2 separate regions of the Homo sapiens genome follow, and region 1 is linked to region 2. Evidence: fine-mapped expression QTL. A gene starts in region 2. The other region holds a variant in brackets. All regions are shown on one strand. Distances are between the middles of the regions. Region 1 overlaps LOC105376265 (a long non-coding RNA gene). Region 2 holds the start of MIR600HG (MIR600 host gene).

Region 1 (8,606 bases), 200 kb before region 2:
TCTTGACTAATAGAGAATTTCAACTAAAAATGGAGGTCATTAGAAAGCAAAGGGGAAAGTCACATGGACTCCTGCTATAGAAAGAATAACCAGAAATCACAGGAATGAGAAGGTTGCTTCTGCCTCCATTTCTCTCTCTCTCTCTCTCTCTCTCTCTCGTTCTTCCTCCACACAATATCCCATTTCTGCTTTTCTCTGCATATCTGGTCCTTTTACTCTGCAGACCAGGGTTTCTGCTGACCCATTGGCTCATCTGGAAAAGGTCACAGGGCTGACTGTCTTTGGCCCAGACTGGGTCACACGACCCCCTTGACCTATTGCAATCCATGTACTTACCTCTGTATCTGAGGATTGGGGTCAGGCCCACCTAAGCCAAACAGACTAAGATAGGGTGAAGAATCCTTTAAAAAAAGAAATCACAGGGCCCGTTTTCAGAATAATGGGAAAAGAATCCAAATAGGCAAAAGCAACAGGTGATCACTCCCAGGAGTTCAGTGAATTTCTGTTTTATGACTAACCAAGCCCTGACTAAGCACAGGCCCAGCACCTGGAACCAGGGGAGTGGCTCCGGTGGCAACAGGTCCTGGGAGCTGGTTTTGCTTAGGCTTTCTTTAATATCATCGTCAATCGGCCGGGCGCGGTGGTTCACGCCTGTAATCCCAGCACTTTGGGAGGCCGAGGCAGGTGGATCACGACGAGGTCAACAGATCGAGACCAATATGGTGAAACCCCATCTCTACTAAAAATACAAAAAATAGCCAGGTGTGGTGGTGCACGCCTGTAGACCCAGCTACTCGGGAGGCTGAGGCAGGAGAGTCGCTTGAACCAGGAGGCGGAGGTCGCAGTGAGCCAAGATTGTGCCACTGCACTCCAGGAGGCGGAGGTTGCGGTGAGCCGAGATTGTGCCACTGCAATCCAGGAGACGGAGGTTGCAGTGAGCTGAGATTGTGCCACTGCACTCCAGCCTGGCGACAGAGCGAGACTCTGTCTCAAAAATAAATAAATACATAAAATAAAAATTAAAAATAATCTTCACCAATCACACCACATTGCCAGAGGGAAACCGGTTTTGACTTTGACCATAACATGCAACCCTTCTGTGGCATCATTTGAGTTGTAAATGCCACATTACATGAATTTTTTTGTGGGGAATTCCATTACACGGAATACTGTCTCCTACACAGTAGAGCTCCACAGTAGAGAAAACCCAAGGCGCTAGGAGAGATCTAGTGGCAGCGTGTTACTGCGACAGGCTCCAAGCCCTCTGATGTACGCCAGCTTCCTTGGTGTAAAGGACCTCATCAGGGGTATCTGCTTGGCCCTGAATGACTCCCTCAACCATTGCCCACTCCCTGTCTCAGAGGTGGGCTCCTGGCAGCTATGTTTGTACAACATGGCCCTTGGTTGTAGCTGATTACCCAGTGTGGACCTCTGACTCAAGCTCAATCAGCCATTGTCATGTATTTGGAATTTAAGACTTCGATAGAGGAAGAGTCCTTCTCTCCATGGGGCTGGAGTATGTGGACTAGGGGTTGTGGGCAGCCATGACCCTCTTGCCCATCCCCTGGGCAGGGCTGAGAAGAAGAGCAAGCTGGTCCCAGCCCTTTGGAAGGTTGTGGGTCCTTGGTGGAAGTAGCTCTGAAATGAAAGCACCTGGGAATCTTTGGGGCCTGAAGATCTGTGTACTTTGGGATGGGGGGAGCCCTGAGCCACCAGAGGAGCAACAGTGAGATGGGGAGGCAGGTTCAGAGGATTCTAGATGAAGCAGCTTTAATGCAGGGTGGCAGAGGGAGGCTGGTGTCCCAGCAACTTTCCTGGCAAGAGTTTGGGAATCAAAGACCATGGCCATTGGTAACCACTGCCCTTGGTCCACAAGTTCCAGGGAAGCAAAACTTTCATTAGTAGCCACAATAATGGCTACGTTAATTATCAATAATTATCAACAATTAATATTATTTTGTACCAATACAGCATGTTATACCTTCCAAAGCATATCCACCTCCACAATCTCATTTGCTCCTTTGCCATCTATATTGGGAAAAGATGTATTTTTTTTAATTTTTAAATTTTGTTTAGAGACAGAGTCTCGCTCTGTCACCCAGGCTGGAATGCAGTGGTGCGATCACAGTTCACTGCAGCCTCAACCTCTCAGGCTCAAGTGATCTTCCTGCCTAAGCCTCCCAAGTAGCTGGGACCACAGACACACACCACCACACCTAGCTAATTTTGTATTTTTTGTGGAGATGGGGGTCTCCCTATGTTGCCCAGGCTGGGCTCGAACTTCTGGGCTCAAGCTATCCTCCCACCTTGGCCTCCTGAAGTACTGGGATTGCAGGCATGAGCCGCAGCAGCTGGCTGTGAGAAAGACGTATTATGTTCTAAGAGTTGCCATGGGGGCCAGGTGCGGTGGCTCAGGTCTGTAATCCCAGCACTTTGGGAGGCTGAGGCGGGCGGATCACCTGAGGTTGGGAGTTCGAGACCAGCCTGACGAACATGGAGAAACCCTGTCTTTACTAAAAATACAAAATTAGCCGGGCATGGTGACACCTGCCTGTAATTCCAGCTACTCGGGAGGCTGAGGCAGGAGAATTGCTTGAACCCGGGAGGCAGAGGTTGCAGTGAGACGAGATCATGCCATTGCACTCCAGCCTGGGCAACAAGAGCAAAACTCCGTCTCAAAAAAAAAAAGGAATTGCCATGCCCAAAGCCCCTTCTAGAAAAAAGCTACCCATGTACCCACCCCTTGCACACTGGATTAAGGTAGGGGCTTGTTGCAAAGGCAGCCACCCCACGAACAGGGTAGTGACTTCTGGGGCAGCACTGCAGGTGTACGGGTGACCAGCTGAGCCCACACAGCCTCTGTGGCAGAGTTTGAGAGTGAGCCTCTGGAGAGAGGCAGGACTCTGGTTTCCCAAAGGCAGAAGCCAAATGACACATACAGAAGGTAGCAAGAGGAAGCTAAGAATAAATGAGAAGTAGAAGCAGAAGTCAGGAGGTGGGATGAAGGTAGGAGAGAGACATTAGTGGACAGGGGAAGGACCCATGGCCCCATCTGGGCCATGGAGGTGGAGGAGCTGATGGAGGGGCCTTAGAGCAGAGAATGCCTCTGGCAGGTGGCACCCCAAAGCCTGGAGGACACTAGAACGGCACTGGCCCCTGAAGGATGTTCCTGGTCCTGAACACCATTCTGAGCTCCAGAGAGAGTAGCCAGGTGGCTTAGCTTCCTGTCCTCTGATGATCTTGGCCATCCTCAACAGCAGCCACCAGAGTGGTCTCTATTCCTTAATGCAGCCACACATACCCCATACAATGACTCAGCAGAGCGAGGCCACTCCTGGCCAGTGTCAGCACAACTCAGCAAGGTGCTTCCTCTCGTCTGTCCCTGGACCCACTCTTCCCCAGAGGGGGCACTGTCAGGGGCTGACTGCAGGAAGGACCCTTCTGCAATGCAATGGCATCAGTCGAGGCGTCATCTGCCTTCAGCCTGGACAGTTCAGGGATATGTCCCAGGAGAGATGAGCAACACCTTGATTAGTAGCTGAGCAAATTAAATCAAAGCATGGTGAAAAAATCCTCCCTCCCTCTCCCCTCCCTCCCTCCCTCCCTCCCTCCCTCCCTTCCTTCCTTCCTTCCTTCCTTCCTTCCTTCCTTCCTTCCTTCTCACCCAAGGGAGTATGCTGAAATCAGGGGAGAGTAGCCCTGAGAGGTGAGAGCTCCTGGAAAAATGTCAAATGCCCTAAGCCAGAGATGGGGGTCAAAAAGTGTTTTCATCTGGAACCTCCTGATGTCAGGTAGCCAAGAATGGGGAGCCCAGGCCCCTTTCAGCATGCAACCTCAAGGTCCCACAGGCCAGGGGACACCCTGAAGACTTTTAGCAGGGAAATGACAAGCCTGGTTTCAGGAAAATGGATTGGAAAGAGGTCAAAGGAGCCAGGGGGGTGAATTAGGAAATTGGAACCAACATCTGGAAGTGAGGTGAGTAAGAAGAAACAGGTTTCTGTCCTAGAACTTTTAGTTCCTGCCTGGGAGATAAACAATAAGCAAGTCAACAATACACTTATACAATGTGTCCAGGGAACAATAAACCTGTACAAAATACTACTGTAAGAAAGAAAAAATAAAGCAGAGCCGGGGGCTAGAGAACAGTGGGGACAGAGTGACTGGTGCAGAGACTGTCAAAAATAAAGATATGTTCAACGAATGGCTGAGTCTCGCACTTTGATAAACACTGCTTTTCTCTTTACATCCTGAATTATGTTGTCTCGGTTTAGGTTTTAACTCTAGAGGCTTCTCTTGTTCCCTGGGACTAAGGTATTTTCTACTTTTTCCTTTTTTAAGAATCAGCAGCTTGAAAGATAGCATGTTCCCATATTCTTCAGGAATGTCACATTTGATATGGCCACTGGATGCGCTTGACTTCTTTATTTATGATTTCTGGCACATTTCCTTTGAGGACGCTCAGAATAGCTTCTGATCCGGCTCACTCA[C/A]AGAAACAGTGAAATCAAATCTTCCTGTACTAACCCTGAGAGTAAGCAACTTTCCTGATGTAAGCTGCCCCCGCTCTCCGGGAGTAAATAACTGGGTGGTCACAGCCTTCCATGAGCAGGGCCATGTCCTGATTTCCAGTGCGGCTCTCTCCACAGCAACATCTTTGACTTGCATACTATTTTTCTGGTAAAGTGCGTTCACTTCCAGAAATCTCATCACAATCAATATGAGTGGTGTGCATGCTCCTAAGGCCAAATTTGGGCCATTCGCTCTTCACTAACCTCTTTATAATCCGTTAAATGTTTCTGGTCTATCCCTTGGTAATATTCAAATCAATGTTCTGACTTATTTATTCTTTGGAAGCCTCATTTATCTCTCTCAGCATCGTGCCACTTCTGTTTGCCTCTCTTGAACTTTTGCACTCTGGACAAAGCAAAGGGCTCAAAGGAGCGTTTGTTGACTGGTGCTGGTGTGTGTATGTGTGAATGAATTTACATGCATGTGAGTGCGTGTGTGTGTGTGTGTGTGTGTGTGTGTGATATAGTTGAAAGAGCTCTGAGTTGGAAATCAAACACATTTAGGTTAAAGGGACAGTCCGTTTGAGTTCTAGCTGGTAACTTTGAGTAAGTGACCTCTTGGGGCCTCAGTTTCCACACCCATAAAGCAAAAATATAGGTATATATCCAAGAGACATGTAAACATATGTGTACATACAGCAAAAACTTGTACATGGGCCAAGTGCAGTGGCTCTCACCTATAATCCCAGCACTTCAGGGGACTGAGGCTGAGGCAGGGGGATCACTTGAGCACAGGAGTTTGAGACCAGCCTGGGCAACATAGCAAGACCCTGTCTCTAATAATAATTTAATAAAACTTGTACATGAATATTCATGGCAGTTTTTTTTTTTTTTTTTAGGAGTGGGGTCTCTCTCTGTCACCCAGGCTGGAGTGCAGTGATGTAATAATAGCTCACTGTAGCCTTGAACTCCTGGGCTTAAGTGATCCTCCTGCCTCGGCCTCCCAAAGTGTTGGGATTACAGGCATGAGCCACCATGCGCAACCGGCTTTTAAAATTATAAACCAAAGCTGGAAACCAATTAAATGTTCATTGACTGATGAATGGATAAATAAAAGGTGTTGCATCCATACTGTGGAATGTTATTAATTCATAAAAAGGGATGAAGTACTAATATAGGCTACAACATTATGCTAAGTGAAAAAAGCCTTGTAAATATTATGCTAGCTGGGCACGGTGTTCGCGCCTGTAATCCCAGTGCTTTGGGAGGCTGAGGTGGGTGGATCGCCTGAGGTCATGAGTTCGAGACCAGCCTGGCCAACATGGCAAAACCCCATCTCTACTAAAAATACAAGGATTTGCCAGGCATGCTGGTGCACGCCTGTAGTCCCAGCTACTCAGGAGGCTGAGGCAGGAGAATCGCTTGAACCCAGGAGGTGGAGGTTGCAGTAAGCAGAGATCGCGCCACTGCACTCCAGTCTGGGCCATGGAGCAAGACTCCATCTCAAAAAAAAAAAAAAAAAAAAGAAAGAAAAGAAAAGTAAAGAAAAAAAAAACATTATGCTAAGTGAAAAAAGCCAGACACAAAAGACCATTATGTGTTAGTTTCCCAGGGCTGCCATAACAAAGTAGCACAAACTGGCTGGCTTAAGCAACAGAAATTTATTGTGTCACAGTCCTGGAGGCTGGAAGTCTAAGATCAAGGTATCCAGAGTTGCTTCCCCCTGAGGACTGTGAAGGAGACATGTTCTGTGACTCATGCCTAGTTTCTGGTGTTTGCTGGCAATCTTTGGTGTTCCTTGGTGTAGAGAAACATCACCTCAATCTCTGCTTTCATCTTCACGTGATGTTCTCCCTGTGTGTATCTTCATATCTAAATTTCCCCTTTTTATAAGGACACCAGACATACTGGATTAAGGCCCATTCTAATGACCCTTTCTTAAACTAATTGCATCTGCAATGACCCTGTTTTCAAATAAGGCCACATTCCGAGATACTGGTGTTAAGACTTCAATTTATGAATTTGGTAGGGGTGGGGGAGACACGATTCAACCCATAATACCACATGTTGTAAGATTCCATTTATGTAAAATGTCTAGAATAGGTAAATCCAGAGAGACAGAAAGAAGATTAGTGCTTGCCAGTGGCTGGGAAAAAAAGGAAATTGGGAATGACTGCTAATGGATACAGAGTTCATTTTTTAAAAATGTTCCGAAATTAGAACAACTATGTGAATACAGTCTGGCAAGTAAACAATACACTCATAAAATATGTTCAGGGAGGCTGGGCGTGGGGCTCACGTCTGTAATCTCAGCACTTTGGGAGGCTGAGGTGGGAGGATCACTTGAGCCCAGGAGTTTGAGACCAGCCTGGGCAACAAAGTGATACCCTGTCTCTATTTAAAGCATTTAAATATTAGCTGAGTGTGATGGTGCACGCCTGTAGTCCCAGCTACTCAGGAGGCTGAGGTAGGAGGAACACTTGACCCTGGGAGGTTGACGCTGCAGTAAGTCATGACTGCGCCACTGCACTCCAGCCTGGGTGAAAGAGGGAGATCCTGCCTCAAAAAAAAAAAAAAAAAAACCTCAGGGAGCAATAAGAGTGTAAGCAAACACAAAACAGGGCAAGTGGCTTTATTTTCTGTGGTTTCAGTTACCCATAGTCAACTGTGGCCCAAAAATATTAAATAGAAAATTCCAGGCCAGGCGTGGTGGCTCACACCTGTAATCCCAGCACTTTGGGAGGCTGAGGTGGGCAGATCACCTGAGGTGAGGAGTTCGAGACCAGCCTGGCCAACATGGTGAAAGCCCATCTCTACTAATAATACAAAAATTAGCCAGGCATGGTGGCGGGCGCCTGTAGTCCCAGCTATTCGGGAGACTGAGGCAGGAGAATCCCTTGAACCCAGGAGGTGGAGGTTGCAGTGAGCCAAGATCGCGCCACTGCCCTCCAGCCTGGGTGACAGAGAGAGACTCCATCTGAAAAAAAAAAAAGTTCCAGAAAGAAACAATTCATAAGTTTTACATTGTATTCCGTTCTGAGTGGTGTGATGAAATCCTGTGTCGTCTCGGCCCATCCCACTTGGCATGCAAATCATTCCTTTGTCCAGCATCTCCATGCTGTATGAACACCCACCTGTAAGTCACTTAATAGCCGCCTTGGTTATCAGTGCCAGTATTGATACTGTAGTGCTTGTGTTTAAGTAACCCCTTATTTTACTTAATAATGCCCGCAGAATGCAAGAGTAGTGATGCTGGCTTATTGTTAAAATTGTTCTATTTTATTATTAGTTACTGTTGTTAACCTCTTGCCATTCCTCATTTATAAATTAAACTTTTTCTAGGTATGTACAAAGAGGAAAAAACAGAACAAGCAAGTCTACTGGTATCTATAGTTTCAGTCATCCACTGAGGGTCTTGGAACATATTCTCTACAGATAAGGGGGACTACGATACTAAAATTCAATGAATTACACCCTGTTTTTGTTTTTGTTTCTGTTTTGAGATAGAGTCTTGCTCTGTTGCCCAAACTAGTGTGCAGTGGCCCAATCTCGACTCACTGCAATTTCCGCCTCTTGGACTCAAGCCATTCTCCTGCCTCAGCCTCCAGAGTAGCTGGGATTACAGGCACCCACTGCCACGCCCGACTAATTTTTGTATTTTTAGTAGAGACGGGGTTTCACCATGTTGGCCAGGCTGGTCTCAAACTCCTAACCTCAAGTGATCCTCCTGCCTTGGCCTCCCAAAGTACTGGGATTACAGGTGGGAGCCACTGCGCCCGGCAAATTACACACTTTAAATGGTTGAACTGTATGGTCTGTGAATTACATCTCATTGAAGCTGCTTTTTTTTTTTAAGGGTGCAATGTTTACTATTCTTTTGCCATAATAAGGTCATGCAGATCACATGATACCAGGGAAATGAATGTGTTTGGACAACTCTGCAAAGACAAAAACAATTGTAGCTTTTGGTTTTTAATTTTTCAATACTTTTGGTATTTCCTATGTGCCTTCCACCCTAACTGCATGGAGGATTCTCTATTCATTCCAAATCTTCCTAATGTAATAAGCAAAATTCCACCTCTCCTTAAAAGCTAACTTCAA
Region 2 (8,606 bases):
GGTCATTAAGAGCAGTTAAAGCTGAAAACAACCTGCTCTGTGAATGGTCTTCCCCTAATTCCCATTCATCTGATGCCAGTGCCTCCTGAGAGAGGGTGGGGGCTATCTCTGAATCATCCAGAATGAGAAAGGTTCTGTGTATTCAAACTCATACTCTATACAGTCTGACGCCATGCTGTGCAGTGACCACAGGTTTCTCGGTGTTATTAGGAGTCTTGGAAAGGAGATGGGTGGTAAATGGATAACAACAGCAGAGCCAAGAAACTACTGCTGAGGTGGGTTTCAATATTGATGTGTTTCTCTCTAGCCCTTATTTACAGAGCACAGAGCTAGTACTTATATAAGAATGAGTCCCTTCCTTTCTTAATAGCCTCTTCCCAAAAGACTGTTTTAAGTCAAGAATTCCAGTTGAGTTGGTTGTAAGAATAGATATCCTTTCCCACATTATCATTTTAGGTAGGAACTAACAGATTCCATTGATGCTTTGAAGCAGCGATCTTTGGAGGTTTTTAAAAATAGTACCATAATGCAAATTAGGTTATGTAAGCTTTACAGCACAGCTAGAAATAGAGACTAGAAACCATGCGGGAATCTGGGCCAAAGAATTTCTCTCCTTCCAGCACATTCCCATGGGGCTCAGGAATTAGATGAGTTAATACACATAATATGTTTTGAACAGTACCTGGTGCAGAGTACGTACTCAGTGAATGTTGAGTGTTCTTACCATGGTTGGCCGAGGTGAGGATGAACGTGAGGAGGGCAAGGCTCTGCCAACAGGTGTTGGAGAGGCAGGTGCATGGCCTGCTCAGGGTGGAGCTGTGTCGGTTCCTTGGTGCTGATAGGCGTCAGCTGCTGCCAGGCTTTGGGAGAAGACTCCTGGTATCTAGGGGTTAGACAAGAAACACACCCCAAAGACCTGGTGAGAGCTAGTGTGGTGGCGTTGCTGCAGATCCAAGCTTAAGGAAGTTGCTCATGTGTCTGTTACAGTAGTTAAATTACCAGCCAGTCTGCTGCCAAGGGTTTGTAAATACTTGTTTTTTGGCGGGGGGCGGGGGGTGGGATTTAAGGGTGCTTAGAACTTCATAAGGGCTGATCTTAGAATATCTACCTGCTGAGTCCAAGTGTCCAACCAGTGCATTAATAATTTTTTAAAAAGGTGTTTGGTTACAACTGCCTCCGGAATCTAACCTTCAGGGCTTACCAGTGTTTAGTAGGTAGAAAGCAAGTTCCTTTAAAGCACAGAAAGGAAAGGAGGAAACTGATTGGTGTGCTTAAAAGGCTGTTGACTAGGATGCTTCAGTGAAAAGCACTCCTATAGCTTGTCTCTTCTAGTTTGCTTTGATACTTTTGGGGGGAAAAATCTGCACTCAACACCATATGAGGCCTCCCTTCTGCCTATTAGTCTTAGAGAAAACATATCTGCCCATCTATTCGTCTTTCTTTTTGTCTATCCATTTACTGTCTGGACACAGTTGGAAAGTTGCTTTTTTTCGATAAGAGGAAAATGGGTACATGATGAAATTGATGCTTTTGGATTAAATAGAGGGTGCACGTCTTATCTTCCATTCCTTTGTGTGTCTACAAAGACTTCAGGAGCCTCTGCAGAAAGGTGGTCAGATGCATCCTTGGCTGTTGGTAAGAGGTGAGCTAAGTGGGGAACATAGATTGGAGCCCTCAGATGCTCCAAGTTTATAAAAACTGCGTTACGTAGACAAGGACTGAGTGTTACCTTTAAGGAGGCAAATAAGATTTGGCTTGTAGTCAGGAGGTTTTTCTTAAATCTAAGAAATACTTGTTTAGCTAATGTCCTGCAAAAGTTAGTACATTCCCCCCAGGGGAGGCTGTTTGGTGGAGTCTTTGCCTTGTTCAGCCAGCATTGAGGGAGGACTTTTTTGCCTTGACTGATCAGTTGTCAACATTCTAATTACTTACTCCTTCTGAGGAGGGTCTTGGTCTCTCTTGGCAGAACTTTGCCATTTCTGCAGATGAACTGTGCCACCCTGCTGGTGGGCAGAGTGAAGATAGCCACTGTTTGCCCAGGCAGTTTCAGCACTGGACAAAAGGTGTCTGCATGCAGGTGTCTGCTAAATGCCCCAAGTAATGAGGTGAACAGCAGCCCTCAGTTTAGGTCATTTGGAGCAGCAGTGGACTGAAGGAGTAGGAAGGGAAGGGGAAGGAGAGATGCCAACATTTGTATCTTGTGTGCCAGGCACTTGGACATTCTTCTGAATTCTCCAGCTACCTTTCTGGCAATAGTAGTATCCTTAGTTTACAAAAGAAACTGATGCTCCAGGTTAAGTGCTAGAACCATTAATGGAACCTAGTTCTGTTCTAAAGCCTTTTTCTATTCCATCCTGCTATGGATTAAAAGGCTGCGGCCGACAGGATGGGCTCTGCTGGTAGCTAGGCCCTCTGACTTGAGGTGACTCCAGATCAGATAACCTGGCCTAAAATAGGGCTCTTTTCATTTAAATTGGTTGTGAAGAACGATTTAACATACTGGAAGGACAGACTGAAGGGCTGCATTGCATCTGTATCCACAGAGGAAGCATTTTTATCTAAAGCTTGTTTTTCTTTGAATTTCAGTGAAATCTGAGGTATGTGTTTTCACTTAGCTTATATTTTCCGAGTGCATGTTCTCTGCCTGGCCTGAGATAGGTCATGAGGATGTCTTCAACAATTTAAGCCAGACTCTGAAGGCAGGCTGGTGAGGCTTTGGCTCATTGGGTACAAGGAAGAGGAGCACAGAGGGGCAGCAGCCCAGGTCTGAGGTGTAAGTGCAAGGGGGTGTCCCTGGACGAGTACTCAGTAGAGATGGGTGGTGGCAGATTGCAGAGGTCAGTGGTCATTGCCAGGAGTTTCCCTTGGAGTAGGCCTCAGGGCAGACTGCCAGCCTGGAGTTTGCTGTCTTCCCTCCAAGTTGGACCCGTGTATGGTAAGCCCTGCTTGGATGGCTTTGGGGTCTCTAAATTGCTGCCTGTGAACCACCCTGTTGAGCGTGTTGGATTCTTCTGCTGCTGTAACCACTTTACCAGCTCCTGGGCTAATGAATGACAGCTGGGTCTCTGCTCAGGCGTGGGTGGGTGCGGGGATGGCTGCGGGATCCTTTTCAGGACAAAGTATTCCTCATCCACCCCAAGTCATCCTCTTTCTGGGCACTTGGCAATGTTTCTGTGCACCCTGCTGTAATCCTGGAGGGGAGCAGGAAAAAGGAACCTTTGAATCCCAGGCTGTCGTGTTCTAGAGCATGACTGTGTCAGGGAGAATGAGCGCCTGGCATTCATAGAACACAGTCCTCTCTCAGGCCCTTTCCCGTTTGCCATTTCATGACTTGCTGTACTGGTGGCCCTTGGAGAAGCAGCAGTGCATAGATCGTTGTTCCCACCTTGCAGACAGGGAGAGTAGAGCCCAGAGATCTCTCCAAACCACACTGCTTATTTGTGGCAAAGCATTGTGGCCCCTAATGAGTTTTTAACCACCAGAAGAAATAACATTTCTTAAGACTGTTTTTAGAGGTAACAGCAGCCCTTTCTGAGGAATTAGTTTTGAATTTCACCACAACTGGAATTAGAAATTTTCTCCTTTTACAGATGAGGAAATAGATGCTTAGATAAGGTGACTTGCCCCAAATTATAGTGCGGTGAGTGGCGGCGCTCACCCCGTCTGAGGCTATGCTGTGTGCAGGTGGTTTGCGTCGCTAGTAGGCACCAATGTCCGTTCTGTCTTCCAAGCCCACTTGGCAGCAGTGGCTTCTCTCTCTGTGATGTGTTCGGCTCACCTTTCCTGTAGGCTTCTGGGCTATCCCCTGTGCGCCTTGAAACCAAGCAAAAACCAACCCACATCTCCCTGATCCTTCCTTAGCCTCCTAAAATCCAGACTTTCTGGGCTCGTTCTTTTTCTGTTCCTTTGTTAGTGTGCTACTGGGCAAGGTGACCAACTGGTCAGCCCTGGGCCAGGCAGCCTGTTTTTTTGTTTTGTTTTCTTTTTTGCCAGCTACACAGTTGGGGTTAATTTCTACAGACCATCATTTTATACTGTAACTGAACCCTATAATAAAGTGCAAATTCAGTAATTGCTACTTGGAGAGCTCCTCAGGGGTGGGAAGGAGGACAGGGGATGTGCTGTTGGAAGTATGTGTTTTATGTTCCGCCTCATCCACACTTTGGTTTTTGGCCACATCCTCCGTTCCTGGCTCGGCCTTCAAACATGTGCTCTAACCCATGGGATCACCGTCACAGTAACACATTTTCCAGAGCAATCTGGTGTTGGGATCCCCTTGGATTCTTCCATCATGAGACTTCTCGGAAGTCTCAGCTTTCTAAAAATCCCTCATTCCTGCAGAGGCTACGTTAAAGGAATATGGTAGCCATCATCTGGGAGGTAAAAAACCTATGGAAATTGGCACCTGGGGAACTCAGGAAAGCTGAAAGCACCTTGAAATGAGATGGAAGGACCAGAAGGTTAAGGCTGGTGAAGAGGAGACCTGGAGAGAACGTGGGCACTCCTGCCAGGTATTTTTAAGGGATTATATTTATTTGTTGTATGTGGTTCCAAAGGGTGAAAGACAATTATGGGAAGCCAGTGGGGCAATTTGAGCTAAAATACACCTCCCGCGATGACAGACGCAGCCTTGAGAGAGCAGCTGAGGTGCGACATGAGCTCCCTGTAACCAGCATGTTCAAGCAAGAAGCCGGTTGTGTGGACGGCAAAGAGGAAATGCTGTGGAATGTCAGTTTGGACGAACTCTGATGTTGACTGGTGATGCTGCCAAGACCATGTCTCCCTTCTTGGGCACGTAGATTTATTGAGAAAAACCATTCACTGTCACCTACTGCTTCTTACCAGGCTCTGTGATGGGGGAGAAGGAGCAGTTGGAGAAAATGTCAGAATCTGCAGCTTAGACAACTGAGTAGAAGGTGAAATCATTGACCCAGATGGAGAGTACAGGGAGGGGAAGAAAGAGGTGCAGAGGATTTGAACAGAATGAGAGTCCTCCTCTGTGCAGGGAGAAAGGCTTCAGTGGGTCTCCCCCTCCCTGCTAGGGATCCTCCTTGCCAGCCCTGGGCTGGGCGCTGGCAGGCCCGTTCCCAGGTCTCCCGCCGAGGGCAGGAGAGGAGCCAGGCCTCAGGAGAGAAGTGCTTACTGAGTAATTTACCAAGAGCGATAGGCTTCCCACTGAGCCAGACGGGATCCCCAGGAGGGGAGTCAGAGGCGGGCCTGGCATGCATGCACAGAGAGAGTGTGCCCACTTGGGGAGTGTGAAGGGCCTTGCTGTGGGACCCGAGAGGATGAGCAGAGTCAAGTGGCAGGTGGGACACACAGTCTGCAGTCACTTCTTAAAAGGCCCTGGGTGGTGTGTCCTTCAATGATGACCATTGTCCACAATAGTGAGTTCCAGAGGGTCGATTGGGACAGTTGGATAGCCAAGGACCAGAGTCAGGAGGCAAGGCTGATGAGCAAGAGGCTGTTGCCATTGGCCAGGCGAGGCGTGAGGGAGGCTGATGGAGCGCAGCAGCAGAGGGATGGAGAGGCAGGAATGGCATCTCCTCACAGGCCAGGCTCCTCTGCCGGATTGGGTAGGGACGGGAAGATGATGGCCCCCAACCCTGGGCCAAGGAACAATAGCACCCATCCGGGGGCGGGGGACCTGCTGGAGTACTTCTCCTGGACCACTGCTCAGTGGGCAATAGAGGGAACAATGGTGTTTCTGACCAGGACGGGGGAAGGCAGGGGAATGGAGGAAGATACTGACAGGGTACAGAGGAGGTAGAATGGAGCGAGGGCCATCTCCACCGGGCTAGGAAATGGGGCTTTGGTGGGCCACACTCCATTGTGCTGGAGCACTCTGGCATCTCCATTGGCAGTGGGGAGGGGCTTGTGACCTATCAGCATCTTCACCCTTTCTGAGTTTCCGCCGGGCTGGGCTCTCCAGCCAGGAGTCACAGGTACCGGGTGGTTGTTCATGCTGAGGCCTTTTGCTTGGCAAAAAGTTAATCCATTTGTGTTCATTTTTAACCTAAGCAAGGGTTGGAGCTTGTTGGATTCAGCATCTGTGGAACACAGTCTGTAGCCCATGGGAAGACGTGGACATTCTTTCCCAAGTTCTTGAAGGACGGAAAGGACCATGAACTTGTGAGGTGACCGGAGGATTGGTTTTGGGTGTCAGTTTTGTGTCTGTCCCAGTGCTGCCACTTTTGCTTTGAAATGGACGGGGAGAGCTGAAGGCCAGCATGGGTTTCTGCACCTGTTTCCTACAGCTCTGCTGGGGACTGTGGCTCAGGTGGCAGCTGTGGACACGGATCCTGTCAGCCTTTGGGTGGCCAGAGCTCCAAGGCCAGGTGTCTCTTAGCTGCAAGCAGCCTTCACTGTTAATCAACAGGCTACACAAATCTCACCTCTAAAGAGGTGAAATGTGAAAATATATGGGAAGCGCTGCCTTAGCCCTGTGTCCACAAATCCTTTCTGTAAAGGGCCAGATAGCATTTCAGGCTTTATGGACCATGTGGTCTCTGCCACAACTGCTCAGCTCTGCCACTGTAGCACAAAAGCAGCCAGAGACAGTGCGTAAATAGATAGCATGGCTGTGTTCTGATGAAGCTTCACTTACAAATACACAGGGCTGTAGTTTGCCAACCCCTGCAAAGTAGGGAGTATTTTGCCAAACTTGGCTGTATTTCACCAACCCCTTAGACTATAGAGATGACTTACCCTTTGGCTTAATCATGACTGGAAACTTCCTTCCCATCCACTGCCTGGATCCATCCACCTCCCCACAAAGGCTTCCTGAGCATCTCCTCCGTGTGAGCACTGGCTCAATGCACAGGACGATGTAGTTCCTGCCCATATGGAACTTAGGTTTTGAGTGACACGTGGGACATTGGAAGAGGAGAGCAGGTGGCTAAAGAGCATCATACAGAACAGGGCTCAGGGAAGTCCCAGGTGATAGAATCTCAAAGAGAAGGGCTGAGGGTGAATCAGGAAAGCCCTGAAGGCAGGCAGCTCCGGAGTCGGGTTTAGACGAGGAGGCTGCAGTTCTCCAGGAAGGGAAGCAGGACCAGATAACGGATGAGATTGTGTCAAACAATGAGGAGGCCTGCATAGTCACACAGGCGCATGAGGTCTGCTCGTAAAGGACCAGGAGGGCCAGGCTCAGGGGTGTGGACTGGATTCTCTGGGCTGTAGGGAGCCACTGGACAGCTGTGCTCAGGAGGGTCATGTGATCACAAATGCTTATTAGAAATGTCACTGGCTATGGAGGACCATGTCTGTGGTTGTAAGTTACGCCTTTCCGTTTAGTCTGGACTTCCTGGTCAAGGTACTTTTGGTATTAGAGTGGGGAAGAGAGGCCCAGAGAGTTGGACAGGTTTTCTGACCATTGGCTTATAGTCAGTGAGCACCCCACCTTTATTTTGACATGACAGAGCTTTACAGAATCTTCCTTCTTCAGGCGTTTTCTTTCCTGCTATCCTAAAGATTCACGTACGAGGGCAGGATAAATGAAACATTCTGTCTCCAATCTAAGTTCGGCTTGGGGCCTCAGAATATGAAGGTAAAGGGGCGGGGACGGACTGACTGCCCCTTGCTTCAGAATCAAGTCACATGGCGGGAACGCTCTATGGAGCAGATTGCTTCCTTTGTACATGCCCTAGGCCCGTGTTCAGCAGGCCTCAGAGAAGCAGAGGTGCTGGCCTCTCGTCTCCAGAGGCTGCCAGCTACTAAGGGAGGTGGAAGCAACTACCCCTGGGGGTGGACTGCTCTGGGCCGGGCCCGACGTCAGGCGTAGGGGACTGAGGTGAATCAGACGTGGTGGCTGCATTGAGGAATGCTCAGTGTAGTTGGGGTGTTTGTAGCGCTTTCTGCTGAGCATGGTCTTTCCTCTCAGAGGGGTTTCTAGGCACGTTGAAGGGAGCTGCCGTTCAGAGCATCGGAGAGGTGCCAGGGACGTGAGCTGCTGCCAGTCTGACGTGAACAGAAGGTGGGAATAGCTGGCGCTGCCGTGCGTTGATAGGAGCACAGTGTCCGCTGCGAAGGGGCGGCTAGGGCTGGAGAAAGATGGCCTGATAGAAGCGCCTCCACAGGCGCTGATTCAGCGAAGCCCCAGCAGCCCCGCGGGGCAGGCGAGGATCACATGCAGCTCGGAGAAGAGGAGGCACTTGCCCCTCTGCCTGAGCTGGGAGGTGGTGGCCAGCTGCACACAGGGCTGTCCCAGGATGCTGACGAGGCGGGACCAGCCACAGGCCGGCAGCGCTGCACTGTGACTCCCTTTCACGGGGCCCAGCCTTGTCTCTGGCCTTCCGGGACTGAGTCAGGAGGCGAGGGCTACGTTGCTGCCCCAGCACAGTCGGGCCAGGTGTGGGGAAAGGCGGGAGGGAGGTGTGCTGTGCTCTGAGCAGCCTGGCAGGCCCTGGAGAGGCAGGAAGCCACTGCAAACTTCAGAAACTGGGTGCTGCTTCCTCTCGGTGAAGTTGTGTTTTGCTAATCTCTGATAATCAGGTCAGGGATACAGAAGGAAGAGTTGCCCCTGGGTGGCTGCTGTCTTTAGACTTGTCGGGCTCCCTCTGGTACAGAAGTGCCTCTCGGATTTTGCTGCCTGGTCTTCTCTCTTA

The links.
Region 1: its variant is fine-mapped to the expression of MIR600HG in skeletal muscle (GTEx, PIP above 0.99).

The regions. Positions count from the first base shown.
Region 1 is chr9:123,307,433-123,316,038 of GRCh38, reverse strand. The region is part of intron 1 of LOC105376265 (a long non-coding RNA gene); the gene reads left to right. Among named protein-coding and RNA genes, the nearest start is that of STRBP, 43 kb to the right of the region's middle. The variant C/A (reference allele first, on the strand shown) is at 4,488.
Region 2 is chr9:123,111,834-123,120,439 of GRCh38, reverse strand. It overlaps MIR600HG (MIR600 host gene), which reads left to right and starts at 4,963. Exons shown (of 1, transcript NR_026677.1): 1 at 4,963-8,606. It also overlaps a transcript of STRBP not described here. RefSeq lists an enhancer at 8,332-8,481.